Linked DNA regions of Homo sapiens: region 2 is linked to region 1. Evidence: fine-mapped expression QTL. Tissue or cell type: whole blood. Region 1 holds a variant in brackets; the other region holds the start of a gene. All regions are shown on one strand. Distances are from middle to middle.

Region 1 (8,355 bases):
ACTTTCTTATCTAAAGAGTTTAGAACTTAGCCAATCAGTGGATGTAAGTTGTTGTCTCTTTTTTTTTTGGAAGGCATTTTAGTATAATAAGCCACCAGGTACAACATGGTCATGTTGTAACTGAATAATCCCACCTTTGGCAATTTACCATAAGGAAATAATTATACAGCTCAGAAAATGCTGCTGTATAAGGATATTTATTAATTACAGTATTGTTGATAATACTGAAATTTTAGAAATAATCAAAATGATCATTGATAGGTAACTGGTTAATTTTTTTTTTTTTAAGACGAAGTTTCACTCTTATAGCCCTGGCTGGAGTGCAGTTGCGCGATTTCTACTCACTGCAACCTCCACCTCCCAGGTTCAAGAGATTCTCCTGTCTCAGCTTCCTGAGTACCTGGGGTTACAGGCACGTGCCACCATGCGTAGCTAATTTTTTATTTTTAGTAGAGACAGGGTTTCACCATGTTGGCCAGGCTGTTCTTGAACTCCTGACCTCAGGTGATCCGCCCACCTTGGCCTCCCAAAATGCTGGGATTACAGGCATGAGCCACCATGCCCAGCTGGTAACTTGTTAATTAAAGAATTATATGTCCATCGAGTGTGCCCATTAGAAATGATGATTTATATTTCTACCTTATATTTATGATGAGGAAAAATATCTATGGGATATTGTTAAGTGACAAAAACAGGTTACATAGTAGCATGTGTATGATCCCATTTATATCAGGTTTTATACAGAGATCACTATATATATGTACACATAGGCATCAGGGAGAAATTTCATCAAAATATTTTTATTCATTTATTTATTTTATTTTTGTATTTTTAGTAGAGACAGGGTTTCACCATGTTGGCCTGGCTGATCTTGAACTCCTGACCTCAAGTGATCCACCCGACTAGGCCTCCAAAAGTGTTGGGATGACAGGCGTGAGCCACCGCACCCACTATTTTATTTATATATGTATTTTTGAGACAGGGTCTCACTCTGTTGCCCAGGCTGGAGCACAATAGAGCAATCACGGCTACCAGCAGCCTCGAACTCCTGGGCTCAAGTGAGCCTCCTGCCTCAGCCTCCCCAGTAGCTGGGACTATAGGAGCATGCCACTAAGTCTGGCTAATTTTTAAATTTTTCTTTTGTAGAAATAGGGTCTATGTTACCCAGGCTGATTTCAAACTCCTGGCCTCAAGCTATCCTCCTCCCACTTCAGCCTCCCAAAGTGTTGGGATTACAGGCATCAGCCACCATGCCCAGCCCAAAATATTTTAAGTGTTCATCTCTTCATGTGAGGTGATTTTTAATTTCCTCTCTCTATATTTTTTCAATTATTTACACTTTTTCTGGAGTGTTCATTGTATCACTTTTACCCAAAAACTATTGAAAAAAGCATTCAAGTGATTTATTTAGTTACTCTTTGTCTCAACAAATATTTGTTGTTGATTGCACCAACTATCCTAGAATTACCTCTCCTGTTTTAAAGACTGCAAGATTTTCTGTGCATAATAGGAGAAAGCACTGAAGCTAAGTACTTATACTTATCAAGGCTCCTTTTGAAAAATTTAAGCACCAGAAAAAAAAAAAATCAGAACAGTAGTTGTCTCTGGAAAGGGTAGGAGTGGTGACTAACAGGGAAGGAGTATGAAGGAACTTTTTAGGATGATGGTAATGTTCTGTATCTTTATAGAGGTTTGGGTTATAGAGGACAATGCATTTGTCAAAACTCAGCAAATTTACCAAATTTACTCTTGTATTTTTTTGTTTTGTTTTGTTTCGTTTTGTTTTGTTTTTGAGACAGGGTACTCACTCTGTTGCCCAGGCTGGAGTGCAGTGGCGTGATCTCAGCTCACTGCAAACTTCGCCTCCTGGGTTCAAACAATTCTCCCGCCTCCTGAGTAGCAGGGAGTACAGGCATGTGCCACCATGACCGGCTAATTTTTATATTTTCAGTAGAGACAGGGTTTCACTAGTTTCACTATGTTAGCCAGGCTGGTCTCAGGTTCCTGGCCTCAAGTGATCCACCCACCTTGGCCTCCCAGAATGCTGGGATAACAGGCGTGAGACACCTTGCCCAGCCAGCAAATAGTTACTGTTAAGATTTGTGCATTCTTCTGTATATCAATTTACATCAAAAGGAGAAAGAATCAAACAAATTTGGCTTTAGTTAGTGATATTGATATCTGGAATTTACTTTGAAATGCACCAAAAATAAGACAGATTGATTAATAAATGGATAGATATATAATAAGGGAGGCAGGTGTGGAGGCTCATGCCTATAACCCCAGCGCTTTGGGAGGCTGAGGCAGGTGGACTGCTTGAGCCCAGGAGTTCAAGACCAGCCTGGGCAACAGAGCGAGACCCCATCTCTTGAAAAATACATATGTATATACATATAAAATAAAGCAAATATAATAAAATGTTAATAATAGAATCTAGGTGGTTTGTATACATGTGCTCGCTAAGAAATTCTTATAATTTTTGTTTTAAAATTTTCATAACAACATGTTGAGAAAAATATGTCTCAATCATCTATTGATATACTGCATGTATACATATTTTATCCTTATACACTAAATTCCACATACTGAATTTTGAAAGTTGCTCCCAAGAAAGATTCAGCCTGTTTACATAGGTAAGCTATGCAAAAGCACATATGTACATATAACATAACTAGTGAAAGGGCTGTCTTTGTAAGCATGCGAACTGTGCAGTTACACAGGGCCCTCCCTTGGTTTAATACTTTACTGTTTTGATTTTTTTTTTTTTTTTTTTGAGATGGAGTTTTGCTCCTGTTGCCCAGGCTAGAGTGCAATGGCACGATCTCGGCTCACTGCAACCTCCACCTCCCGGATTCAAGCGATTCTCCTGCCTCAGCCTCCTGAGCAGCTGGGATTACAGGCATGCGCCACCACGCCCGACTGATTTTGTATTTTTAGTAGAGATGGGGTTTCTCCACGTTGGTCAGGCTGGTCTTGAACTCCCAACCTCAGGTGATCCACCCGCCTCAGCCTCCCAAAGTGCTGGGATTACGGGTGTGAGCCACCGTGCCCAGCCAAAGTTTTTTTTTTTTTTTGGAGACAGAGTCTCACTCTGTCGCCCAGGATATAGTGCAGTGGCCCGATCTCGGCTCACTGCAACCTCCACCTCCCAGGTTCAAGCGATTCTCCTTTCTCAGCCTCCTGAGTAGCTGGGACTATGGGGGCCCACCACCACGCCTGGCTAATTTTTGTATTTTTAGTAAACACGGGGTTTTGCCATGTTGGCCAGGGTCTCAAACTCCTGACCCTGTGATTCGTCTGCCTCAGCCTCCCAAGGTGCTGGGATTACAGGCATGAGCCACCATGCCTGGCTTGAAATTCTTAATAATCTTTTAACAAGAAGCCCTGCATTTTTATTTTGCTCTGGGCCCTGTAAATTATGTAGCCAGTCTTGATTAGTGAATAAAAATATTACTAATATATATTATGTTCTCCCTATGCCAGGCACTATGTTAAACATTTTGCATTCATAATCTCATTGAATCTTCAAAGAAAGACTAAAGGGGTAGGTAATATTAATATTCCCATTTTCCAGCTGAACATATTGAGGCTCAAAGAAGTTAAGCTACTTTTCAACTTCACACATTTATTATACCCTCAGTATGCATGGTAGCACAGTATACTTAGTAGGCACTCAATAAATGTTTACTGAATAAATAGTAATAATAGCAGCTCCCATTTATTGAGCACCTTCCATGAGCCTAGAATGCCTCAACTGAAAGATGACATGCTCTCCCCTAACCCAGACTCCCCAGCTTTTGCATCACTTCCTCAAAGCCACATTCCTTGACACCCTAAATGAGGTCAGGTCTCTTTTTATGGTACCCTAGGCTTCGTGATAGCATTCATCACAATTGAAGTTAGGTAGTTCTTTAATTCCTGCCTTCCCTTCTAGATTGAAATCTCAGTGAAGACAGTGACTCATTTTCATCCCTTCACTCCTTTATTCCCAGCACCAAGTGCTATACCTGAAGCATAGCCTGCCTTCTGCCAGTGCTTGATTATGTATTTTCTCATTTAATCCTCAACTCTGTGAAGTAAAATTGTTACCATCATTTTACATGTGAAGAAACTAAGGCTCAGAGAAGTGAAGTCCCAGTCATCCCACTTTGCAGGAAGAGTCCCATCATCGTGTGGACCTACATCTGTTTGGCTCCAAAACCTCTCATCATTTCACTACAGCCCACTGTTACCGCGTGACAAACAATCTGCTTGATGTTATTTTCTATCCCTAGGCACAACTTATT[C/G]CTTTAATATCTCTTCCAGCTTCTATTTTTGCTATCTGACCTCCAGGCTCTCTAATGAAACTGAGACATGCTTTCCAACAAGCAATCACGGCAAGTGATATTATAAACAAGCTGGCTGAAGCCAGGATTTTATTTTTTAACCTTGATGAGTGAACCAGCTGGAAACACTACATTTAAAAGCAAAGGCTATAATTTCCTTTTAGTACCGATTCCTCCCTTGTCCTGGGAGATACCCTGAAGCTGCCTCTTGGGTTTTGTCATTGCAAAGCCATCACCAACGTCCAGTTGTAGGTGAAGGCCTGAAATAACTGAGGTAAAACAAATGAAGGCCGGACATGGTGGCTCAGGCCTGTAATCCCAGCACTTTGGAAGGCTGAGGCAGGTGGATCAGCTGAGGCCAGGAGCTTGAGACCTGCCTGGCCAACATGGCAAAACCCCATCTCTAATAAAAATACCCGCCCCCCGGCCTCCGCAAAATTGGCCGGGCATAGTTGTGCATGCCTGTAGTCCCAGATCTCTGGGAGACTGAGGCAAGAGGATCACTTGAACCTGGGAGGTGGAGGTTGCAATGAGCCAAGATTGCGCCACTGCATTCCAGCCTGGACGACAGAGCAAGACTCCATCTCAAAACAAACAAATGAAGATGCTTCAGGCTGCTAATAAGGTATCTTTTAGTAGTTGTCTGCCTCTATATATTGATTTCTATAAAGAAATGTTTCTCCGTAAGTATGGATCTAGATTGTCCTATGCTTGTGCACTACTGGATATCTTTTTTTTTTTTTTTTGAAACAGAGTCTCACTCTGTCACCCAGGCTGGAGTGCAGTGATGCAATCTCGGCTCACTGCAACCTCCTGGGTTCAAGCAATTCTCCTGCCTCAGGCTCCCAAGTAGCTGGGATTACATGCACACACCACCACATCCGGATAATTTTTGTTTTTATTAGAGATGGAGTTTCACCATGTTGGCCAGGGTGGTCTTGAACTCCTGACCTCAGGTGATCCTCCTGCCTCGGCCTCCCAAAGTGCTGGGATTACAGGCATGAGCCACTGTGCCTGGCTCATTACTGGATATCTTTACAGAGCTGAGAGGCCTGTTCTTTAGACACTTATTTATGAGGGTCATGGAAGTGGGATGGAGAGGAATGCTGAGAGAGTGTGCAGGCTTGTTTTCTTCAGCCAATGCTGGAGGAGAAACTGTAAACAAGAAATGGAGGGCACTTGGCCCAGCACTTTATGACATGGATTGTTGAGTTCCACCTGTGGTGTTAAAGACTGAAAATCCCAGACCTCAGGAATTGGACTGATGACAGACTGTGTTGTATTATGTCTTTTGTAGGGCATAGGACAAGAGGACAGCCTCTGATGATGGTAGAGTTTCCAGAAGTCCTGCGTTTCTGCCATTCTGATAGTGAGTTTAGACTGTGGACCTTTCATAGCAGCCACTGCTAACAGCAGTATAGGTTACCCTGTCTATTACACTTTCTGTAAACAAAAGTCAAAACCTGTTAACAATCACAGCTTGGCCTCGGTTGTGTTCTTGGGCTTATTTCACTTTCTTGGAAGAATATCAAATACTTCCCAAATTCAGTGGTGGAAGCAATGGTGACAGTCATCAGTGCAGGAGAACGGTGCTCACTGGAGCTACATTCTGATTAGGATGAGAGAGCAGCACTCCGGCAGATCCAGAAGGTTGTGATAGAACAAGAACTGTTCCTGAAAACAGGAGAGGTGTATCAGAAATACGGGAGGAGGAAGAGATTGTTTTCTCTAGGAAATGTGCCATGAGGGCTTAAGTCATCATAATTTGAACATTAAAAGTATGAGTTTAGACTGGGAGTGGTGGCTCACACCTGTAATCCCAGCACTTTGGGAGGCCAAGGTGGCTGGATCACCTAAGGTCGGGAGTTCGAGACCAGCCAGACTAACATGGAGAAACCTCGTCTCTACTAAAAATACAAAATTAGCCAGGCGTGATGGCACATGCCTGTAATCCCAGCTACTCAGGAGGCTGAGACAGGAGAATTGCTTGAACCCGGGAGGCGGAGGTTGCAGTGAGCCGAGATCACGCCATTGCACTCCAGCCTGGGCAACAAGGGCGAAACTCCGTCTCAAAAAAAAAAAAAAAAAAAAGTAGGATTTTAATATCCAAAATATATAAGGAACTCAAACAACTTAATAGCAAGAAAACAACCTAATTAAAAAATGTCAAAGGACCTAAATAGATATTTCTCAGAAGAAGACATACAAATGGTCAATAGGTACATGAAAAAATGTTCAGCATCACTAATCATCAGAAGAATGCCAATTAAAACCACAAGGAGATATCGTCTCCCACCTGTTAGAATGGCTGTCAACAAAAAGATGAAAGGTTACAAGTGTTAGAGATGATGTGGAGAAAAGGGTACCCTTGTATACTGTTAGTGGGAATGCAAATTAGTGTAGCCATTATGGAAAAGAGTAAGAAGTTTCCTTGAAGAACTAAAAATATAACTACCATATGATCAAGCAATCCTACTTCTGGAGATATATCCAAAGGAATTGAAACCAGTTTGTGAAAGAGATATCTGCACTCCCATCCTCATTACTCACATTATTCACAATAATTGTACTGAATTATTCAGCATTATTCACAATAACAAAGATAGAGAATCAATCTTGTCCATCAATGGATGAATGGATAAAGAAAATGTGCTATGTATACACAATGGCCTTTAAAAAGAAATACTGCCATTTGCCACAACATGGATGAACCTAGAGGACATTATTTTAAGTGAAATAAGCCAGGCACAGAAAGGCAAGTACTGCACGATCTGACTTTTATGTGGAATCACATAGCAGTAGACAGTAGAATGGTGGTTAACTCACAGTAGCAGACAGACAGTAGGATGGTGGTTAACTCACAGTAGGAGACAGACAATAGCATGGTGGTTAACTGAGGGTTGGTTGCAGGGAGAGGGAAAAGGGAGATGTTGGTCAAAGGGTAGAACGTTTTGGCTAGACAGGAGGAATAAGTTTTTAGGATCTATTGCACAACATGGTGACTATAATTAATAGTAATGTAATGTATATTTCAAAATTGCTGAGAGTAAATTTTAAATGTTCACACCACAAAAAATGATGAAAATGTGAGGTGATAGATGTGTTAATTAGCTTGATTTAATCATTTGATAATGCATACATCACATCGTACCTCACAAATATTTATAATTATTATTTGTCAACTAAAATTTTTAAAAAATTAAGGCTGGGAGCAGTGGCTCACACCTGTTACCCCAGCACTTTGGGAGGCAGAGGCAGGTGGATCACTTGAGCCCAGGAGTTTGAGACCACCTCATGTCTATGAAAAATAAAAAAATTAGCCAGGCCTGGTGGTGCATGCCTGTAGTCCCAGCTACTCAGGAGGATGAGGTGGGAGGATCACTTGTGCCCAGAAAGCTGAGCCTGCAGTGAGCCATGTTCGTGCCACTGTACTCCAGCCTGGGTGACAGAGTGAGACTCTGTCTCAAAAAAAAAAAAAAAAAAAAATAGGTCTAATCTTATTTTGTAGTCACTGGCTAGTGAGATATGATGTATAATTGAGTCACTGTATATGAGAGCCAGTCTCTAAGATGACTCTCAATGATTCTCACTTTCTAGTATTAATGTCCTTATGTTGTCTTCTTCCACAATGAATTAGGGCTAGTCTATGTGAACAAGAGCATGGCTGAGGTTACAGGGGGTGACTTCCAAGGGTAGACTGTAAAGGACTTGCTACTCCCACTTTAGTCTCTTGGATAGCTTACTCTGGGGGAGGCCAGCAATCATCTCATGAGGACTCTCCAACAACTTTGTAGAGGGGCCCACTAGGGGACGAACTGCGGCTTCCACCAGTATTGTGCACAGACTTACCAGCTGTGTGAGTAAGCCATTGGAAGTGGATCTTCCAGCCCCATTCAAGTCTTCAAATGACTGCAGACTTGGTTAACGTCTGACTGAACCCCACGAAAAACCCCTAACTAGAACTGCCCAGTCAAGTGGCTCCCAAATTCCTGACCTGTAGAAACTGTGACAGATAATAAATGTTTATATT
Region 2 (6,460 bases), 140 kb after region 1:
AATAAACTATAGCAATTTTTCTTGTAGGGCTCAATTTCCTCATTTTTAAAAATAAGAAAGATTCTCTTCTGGGTTTGTATTGATGAAAGGTGAATAGAAAAATATTTTATTTTTAAAATATTTTTTAAAATAGAAATGGCATCTCACTATATTGCCAAGGCTGGTCTGGAACTTCTGGGCTCAAGTGAGTCTCCCATCTTGGCCTCCCAACATGCTGGGATTACAGGTGTGAGCCACCATGCCTGACCTAGAAAAATAAAATAAAATAAAAATAAATTTGGGGTCTGGGCACGGTGGCTCACACCTCTACTACCAACACTTTGGGAGGCCAAGGCGAGTAGATCGCCTGAGCTCAGCAGCTGGATACCAGCTTGGGCAACATGCTGGTCTCTACAAAACGCCAACTCTACCAAAAATACATAAAATAGCTGGGCATGGTGGAATATGTCTGTGGTCCCAGCTACTTGGGAGGCTGAGGCAGGAGGAAAAAGGGAGGGGAGGGGAAGGGAGAGGAGGGAAAAGGGAAGGGAAAAGGGAACAGAAGGGGGAAGGGAGGGGAAAAGGGAAAGGAAAGGAAGGGGAGGGAAGGATGAAGGAAAGAAAAGAAAGAGAAAGAAAGAAAAGAAAGGAAAGAAAGAAAAAGAAAAGAGAAAAGAAAAGAATTTGGCCGGGAACAGTGGCTCAGGCCCATAATCCCAGTACTTTGGGAGGCCAAGGCAGACAGATTGGTTGAGCTCAGGAGTTTGAGACCAGCCTTGGCAACATAGCAAAACCCTGTCTCTACAAAAAATAACACTACTTAGCCAATGTGGTGGTGTACCTGTAGTCCCAGCTACTTTGGGGGCTGAGGTGGGAGGATCACTTGATCCCAGGAGGTTGAGTAAGCCGAGATGATGCCACTGTACTTCAGCTTGGGTGACAAAGTGAGACCCTGTCTCAAATAAATAAATAAATAAATGTAAGAAGGTAGTATAGTGTAGTGGTTAAGAGTGTTAATGGCTGGGTGCACTGGCTCACACCTGTAATCCCAACACTTTGGAGGCTGAGGTGGAAGGATTGCTTGGGCCCAGGAGTTCCAGACAGGCCTGGGCAACATAGCCAGAATCCACTTATTTATTAAAAAAAAAAAAAAAAAAAGAGTGTAAATACCAGTTAATACCAGAAGAAATGGGTTCTTATAGCTGTTCCACTGCTTTTAGCTGTGTGACCTTGGGCAGAATATTTAATCTCTCTGACCCTGATTATTTTTATCTGTACAATAGAGATATTACAGTCTGCCATTAACATCCTGTTTTGTAATTTACATTAGCCACTTGATGTGTAGTGTATTCTTACTGAAAAATCTGTTTTGACAACTTTTGTTTTGGTTCAGGTTTTGGAGGCTAGAGATGGAGAACAGAATTCTTTCGATTTATTTTGCATAACTAAACAGAAAACATGGATTAAGATTTGGAATAAGTTACAGGGAGGAGGGCTCATACGGTTTGTCTTTTGAATTTAAGAAGACCCTAAGAATTAGTTGAAGATTGTTTTAAGGAATTCTACTATATAAAACTAAAAACAGACATAAGGCCTAAAGTGTGAAAGGAAAATAAATCTTGGGGCCTCCACCTCACTAAGCTAAAGAGAAAAGTCAAGCTGGGAACTGCTTAGGGCCAACCTGCCTCCCATTCTTTAAAAAGTCACCCCTCTGCTCACTGAGATAAACGCATATCTGACTGCCTCCTTTGGAGAGGCTAATCAGAAACTCAAAGGAATGCAACCATTTGTCTCTTATCTATCTATGCCCTGGAAGCTCCCTCCCCACTCAGAGTCTTCCTGCCTTTGCTTTGAGTTGTCCAGTCTTTCCAGAATGAACCAATGTTCATCTTACATATATTGATTGATGTCTCATTTCTCCCTAGAATGTATAAAACCAAACCGTGCTCTGATCACCTTGGGCACATGTCTACAAGACCTCCTGAGGCTATGTCATGGACGCGTGTCCTCAACTTTGGCAAAATTAACTTTCTAAATTAACTGAGGCCTGTCTCATATTTTGGGGGTTCACAAAAGGATACAAGAAGGTCTTGTCACTTAGCAAGCTTCCAAAATGCAATTTTGAGTTATTCAACTGCTAAGCAACTCTTTACATGTATCTCCAATGCAAAGGAGGGTACTTCTGAGTAAAGAAGTTTTTGGGGTTTTTTTGTTGTTGTTGTTTGTTTTTTTAAGACAGTCTCGCTCTGTCGCCCAGGCTGGAGTGCAGGGGCGCGATCTCCGCTCACTGCAACCTCCGCCTCCCGGGTTCACGCCATTCTTCTGCCTCAGCCTCCGGAGTAGCTGGGAGTATAGGCACCCGCCACCACGCCCGGTTAATTTATTCTATTTTTAGTAGAGACTGGGTTTCACCGTGTTAGCCAGGATGGTCTCGATCTCCTGACCTCGTAATCTGCCCGCCTCGGCCTCCCAAAGTGCTGGGATTACAGGCATGAGCCACTATGCCCGGCCAGAAGTTTTTGCTTTTAATTGCCCAGGGCCACTCCTAAGAAATAACAGTCTCTGAAGGGTAGATAAGGTAGTGCTACCAAGAGAAGCGTTACTCAGCAAGCCTTCAAAAATATAAAAATAACTTACTGTTTCTGAAAGTTTGCAAGTTTTTCTTATTCAACCCCATCCTATGGAAATATACCAGTTGGAATAAGCAACTACAGAACCACATAGGACGGCACTACTAGAAAAATAGATTAAATCTTTATCCTGGCAATGAGTCTAATACATTTATCATTGCTGTGAATTTTAAAAGGTGTAGCAGGCCGGGCGCGGTGAGTCACCGCGCCAGGCCCGATCATAAACACTTTTAAAGTGAAGAGGCTTTCCGCTTCCTCAACATAAGGAGTAAATCTTTAATGCTGCTTCTAGGAAAAAAAGTACAAGAAAAGCAAGACTTCCTCCTTGCCTTCTCTTTAAAAAGCAACAGCCGATGAACACGTGTTGGAGCGCTCTCGCCTTGACAGAATTAGAGATCTTCAGAATCACTTGGCGTGGTGGTCGAAGCGTCTAGCCCTAGCTCATTAGGGTGCCACAGTTTCTCGGCCCACAAGTCAGCTTTTAACCACTTTTCTCCGCAAAAGACCGGACCGGTCTTCATGCGTCAACTAAAGCAAGCGTCTGGTCCCGTGTGTGAAACGTGTAAGTTCATGGCATCAGGGAATACCCATCGCGCGTACCGTAATAGAAGAGGGCGAGGTTCCTCACCTAACCCATAATGCTCAGCTCGCCTTTCCGGAAGCAAGGACTATCACCCCGACAATACCTTCATCCGGGCGGAAGCGTCTCACCCTGAGTCTGATTTGGCAGTGACGAAGCGAGGTATTGTGGGACTTTGTCCGTCTCCCAGTACGCATGTGCCTCAGCCGGCCTCTCCCGGCTCCTGGGGCCACGTCCGGGCGGTGGCGCCGTCGAGAGATGCTCGTCAGCGAAACTGGCCAATCCCCTGCAGGCGCAAGCGCAGTGGCTCGGGCGCACCGGAAGCGCAGGGGGATGGGGCGGCGGTGACGCGATTCTGTCCGCGTTGGAGGGGCCGGGCCGCTGCTGGAGTCGCCGCGGCCGCCGCGTGACGTGGCACAGCCAGAGCCTAAAGGCTAGAGCCGGAGCTGCCGCGCCAGTCGCCTAGCAGGTCCTCTACCGGCTTATTCCTGTGCCGGATCTTCATCGGCACAGGGGCCACTGAGACGTTTCTGCCTCCCTCTTTCTTCCTCCGCTCTTTCTCTTCCCTCTCGTTTAGTTTGCCTGGGAGCTTGAAAGGAGAAAGCACGGGGTCGCCCCAAACCCCTTCTGCTTCTGCCCATCACAAGTGCCACTACCGCCATGGGCCTCACTATCTCCTCCCTCTTCTCCCGACTATTTGGCAAGAAGCAGATGCGCATTTTGATGGGTGAGTGAGGGGCTGCGAGTCAGGCGGGACCTGGGAAAGGCAGGGTCTCCACAATTGGGGTGGCCTCTGGGCCTGTTTTTTTCCTCCGCCCGCTGTGGTGGGGGAGGGGCGCCGGGTCGGGGGTCGGAAGGAATTCTTAAGGGGGAACAATGGAGCGGAGGGTGAGCGATCCCCCCCGCCCCCGATCTGTCGCCAGACGAGACAGGGACAGGGCTTCGGGCAAGATTTCTTTCTGGACTCGGCTTTTTCTCCTTGATCTTATTGAAAGCTGGACAACATTGGGCAGAGATGTGGGGAAAGCCAACTCTGGGAAGCAAACACTTGGCGAGGCCCTTTCTGGGGGTGCGATCTGCATACCTTCTTGCCCGGGTGTGGACAGCGGTCAGGAGGGAGGCAGAGCAACTCCAGCCTTTTCCCTCCCCTTCTGCGTTTCGTGTACAGTCCCTGCATACTCCATTGGTATGTAAGCCAGCGGCCACCCGGAGCCTGGAGCCGCCCGGGGCAGGAAGTTGCGGTGGCCAGGGAGCACCCAAGGTTTCCGAAGAGTCTGGAGTCCTTCAGCGCTCACTTTGCTAAACTTGGCCTTGCGCTGGATTCCGTTTCAAGTTTTTCGCTCCTTGTTAATCTCATTCTCCGAAAACTGAGCTTATCTTCTATTTCTTTGACTATTTTCAAAAACTTTAAATGTGTTTGGTTTATTCTCCTAGGTTTTTAAGCTTATTTTTAGGCGGTCTAAGGTCTAATGCAAAAAAATTTTAGAAACGAATTTTTAAAAAATACCTGATAAATTTTCAAGTAACTGAACATCATGACGCTGAATTTTATGGTAGTCTTGTTAAATAGTAACTACAATTTTTTTAAAATTTCTTTTTAGAAAGTTGACTTTTTAAAAACTACTTTTTAGGGGGCGTGTTTTTGCTCAGCTGAGGGAGAAGGGCTGTCAGTTGGCTGAAGTAAGCAACCGCTCCCGGTTACTGTAAGCAGTCTACATCACAGCTGAGCTCCATGGACTAGAATAACGCTGAAAGAAGCCCCTCTAACTTTGAACGTTGAAACTTGTTGGTTCATTAGCTTGTTTTCTACCGGAGGAGGTTTTATTTTTCTCTTCCTTTTTTTTTTTTGCAGACGGAGTTTTGCTCTTGTCACCCAGGCTGGAGTGCAGTGGCGCAATCTCGGCTCACTGCAACCTCCACCTCCCGGGTTCAAGAGATTCTCCTGCCTCAGCCTCCCGAGTAGCTGGGATTACAGGCATGCAACACCACGCCTGGCTAATTTTTTGTATTATTAGTAGAGACGGGGGTTTCACCACGTTGGCCAGTCTGGTCTCGAACTCCTCACCTCAGGTGATCCACCCACCCAGGCTTCCCAGAGTGCTGGGATTACAGGCGTGAGCCACCGCGCCCGGCCGGAGGTTTTATTTTAGAGCTGTACTACCATCAAAACTTGCAAACACAAGCTTCTGTAATATTTCAAGGTATATAAAGAGTAACAGTATATACATTGGCTCATGTTTATTTTCCTCTTAGCGTACTTACACTTTGTGAATCAATTGTTTATGAGTCATTCATAAAGTATTTTTTCTTTCAAAGTTTCTTAGATTTCCTTTGTCAAGAGGACAGAATTATTTTAGGAGGGCAAGCATATTTAAGTTTTCAGTGGCTGAAAGTTGGCAGTCTGAAAAAGGATCGGAAGTTAATGGGAGGACTTCGGACTGTGATAAATGAATTTCCAGTCTGTTCGTTAAAGAGATTTAACAATATATGGTTATGTTCCAGAACACATAGTATATTGGTCTTTTTACTTAAGATTTATTGTAAATGAATTGCTATTTTTCAATTCCTTAGTCTTTTGTGATTGATGAAAGTATCAGAGGGGCAAGGAATATAGAAGTATGCTACCAGCATTTTCATATATTTACTATATTGGGAGGCATTTCCCTCCACCCCAAAAAATGATTCGAAGAAAATGGGAGAGAAAAAATATTTAAGTTTCTGCATTTGTGTGGAGGATTTAGGAGTTACTTGTTTTTAATGTTTTATTACTCAGGCATGCTATCGTTTTGCACTTTAATTTTGGGATAATCAGTTTTCCTTGACTAAAAAACACTTCAGTCACAAGATCGACATTTATGGTAACTCATCAAAGGAAGTATCAACGTACGAGGGAGATATGTGCATGAACAGGGAAAAAGGTGGTTTGGAAGTTTGATAATTCTTACATTTTTCTGTCTGGCTTTATGAGTGACTGACAGCAAAAATAATAGATCACTTTTAAAGTGTCTGCCCCATTCAACTGTTGGAATTATTAATGTTTTACATTAGTGTGCTTCGTTTTTCTTTATAAAGCTTAGATAAGATTCATGCCCTCCTGAGTCAGTGTTTTATTCAGACTTTACCATTTTAAAGTATAAAGGAGATAGCAGTTAGCTGATGTGTCAGGTTTGCCAAACTACTATGGAGAAGTTTTAAATTTAATTCGTACACCTGCTGTTCTTCAAAAGTTCAAGTAACTTTAAAAGATATTGGAAGTTAGCTTGTAGTTAAC

The links. PIP is the estimated chance that this variant, and not a neighbour inherited with it, causes the effect.
Region 2: ARF4 starts here. The variant in region 1 is fine-mapped to the expression of ARF4 in whole blood (INTERVAL, PIP 0.96).

The regions. Positions count from the first base shown.
Region 1 is chr3:57,734,546-57,742,900 of GRCh38, reverse strand. No RefSeq gene overlaps it. Among named protein-coding and RNA genes, the nearest start is that of SLMAP, 18 kb to the left of the region's middle. The variant C/G (reference allele first, on the strand shown) is at 4,287.
Region 2 is chr3:57,594,530-57,600,989 of GRCh38, reverse strand. ARF4 (ARF GTPase 4) reads left to right here and starts at 3,646. Exons shown (of 6, transcript NM_001660.4): 1 at 3,646-3,916. The coding sequence starts at 3,850. It overlaps ARF4-AS1 (ARF4 antisense RNA 1), which reads right to left and starts at 3,201. Exons shown (of 2, transcript NR_132370.1): 1 at 2,939-3,201; 2 at 74-247. It also overlaps a transcript of PDE12 not described here. RefSeq lists enhancers at 2,623-3,328, 2,843-3,402, 3,423-3,672, 3,683-3,752, 3,943-3,992 and 4 more.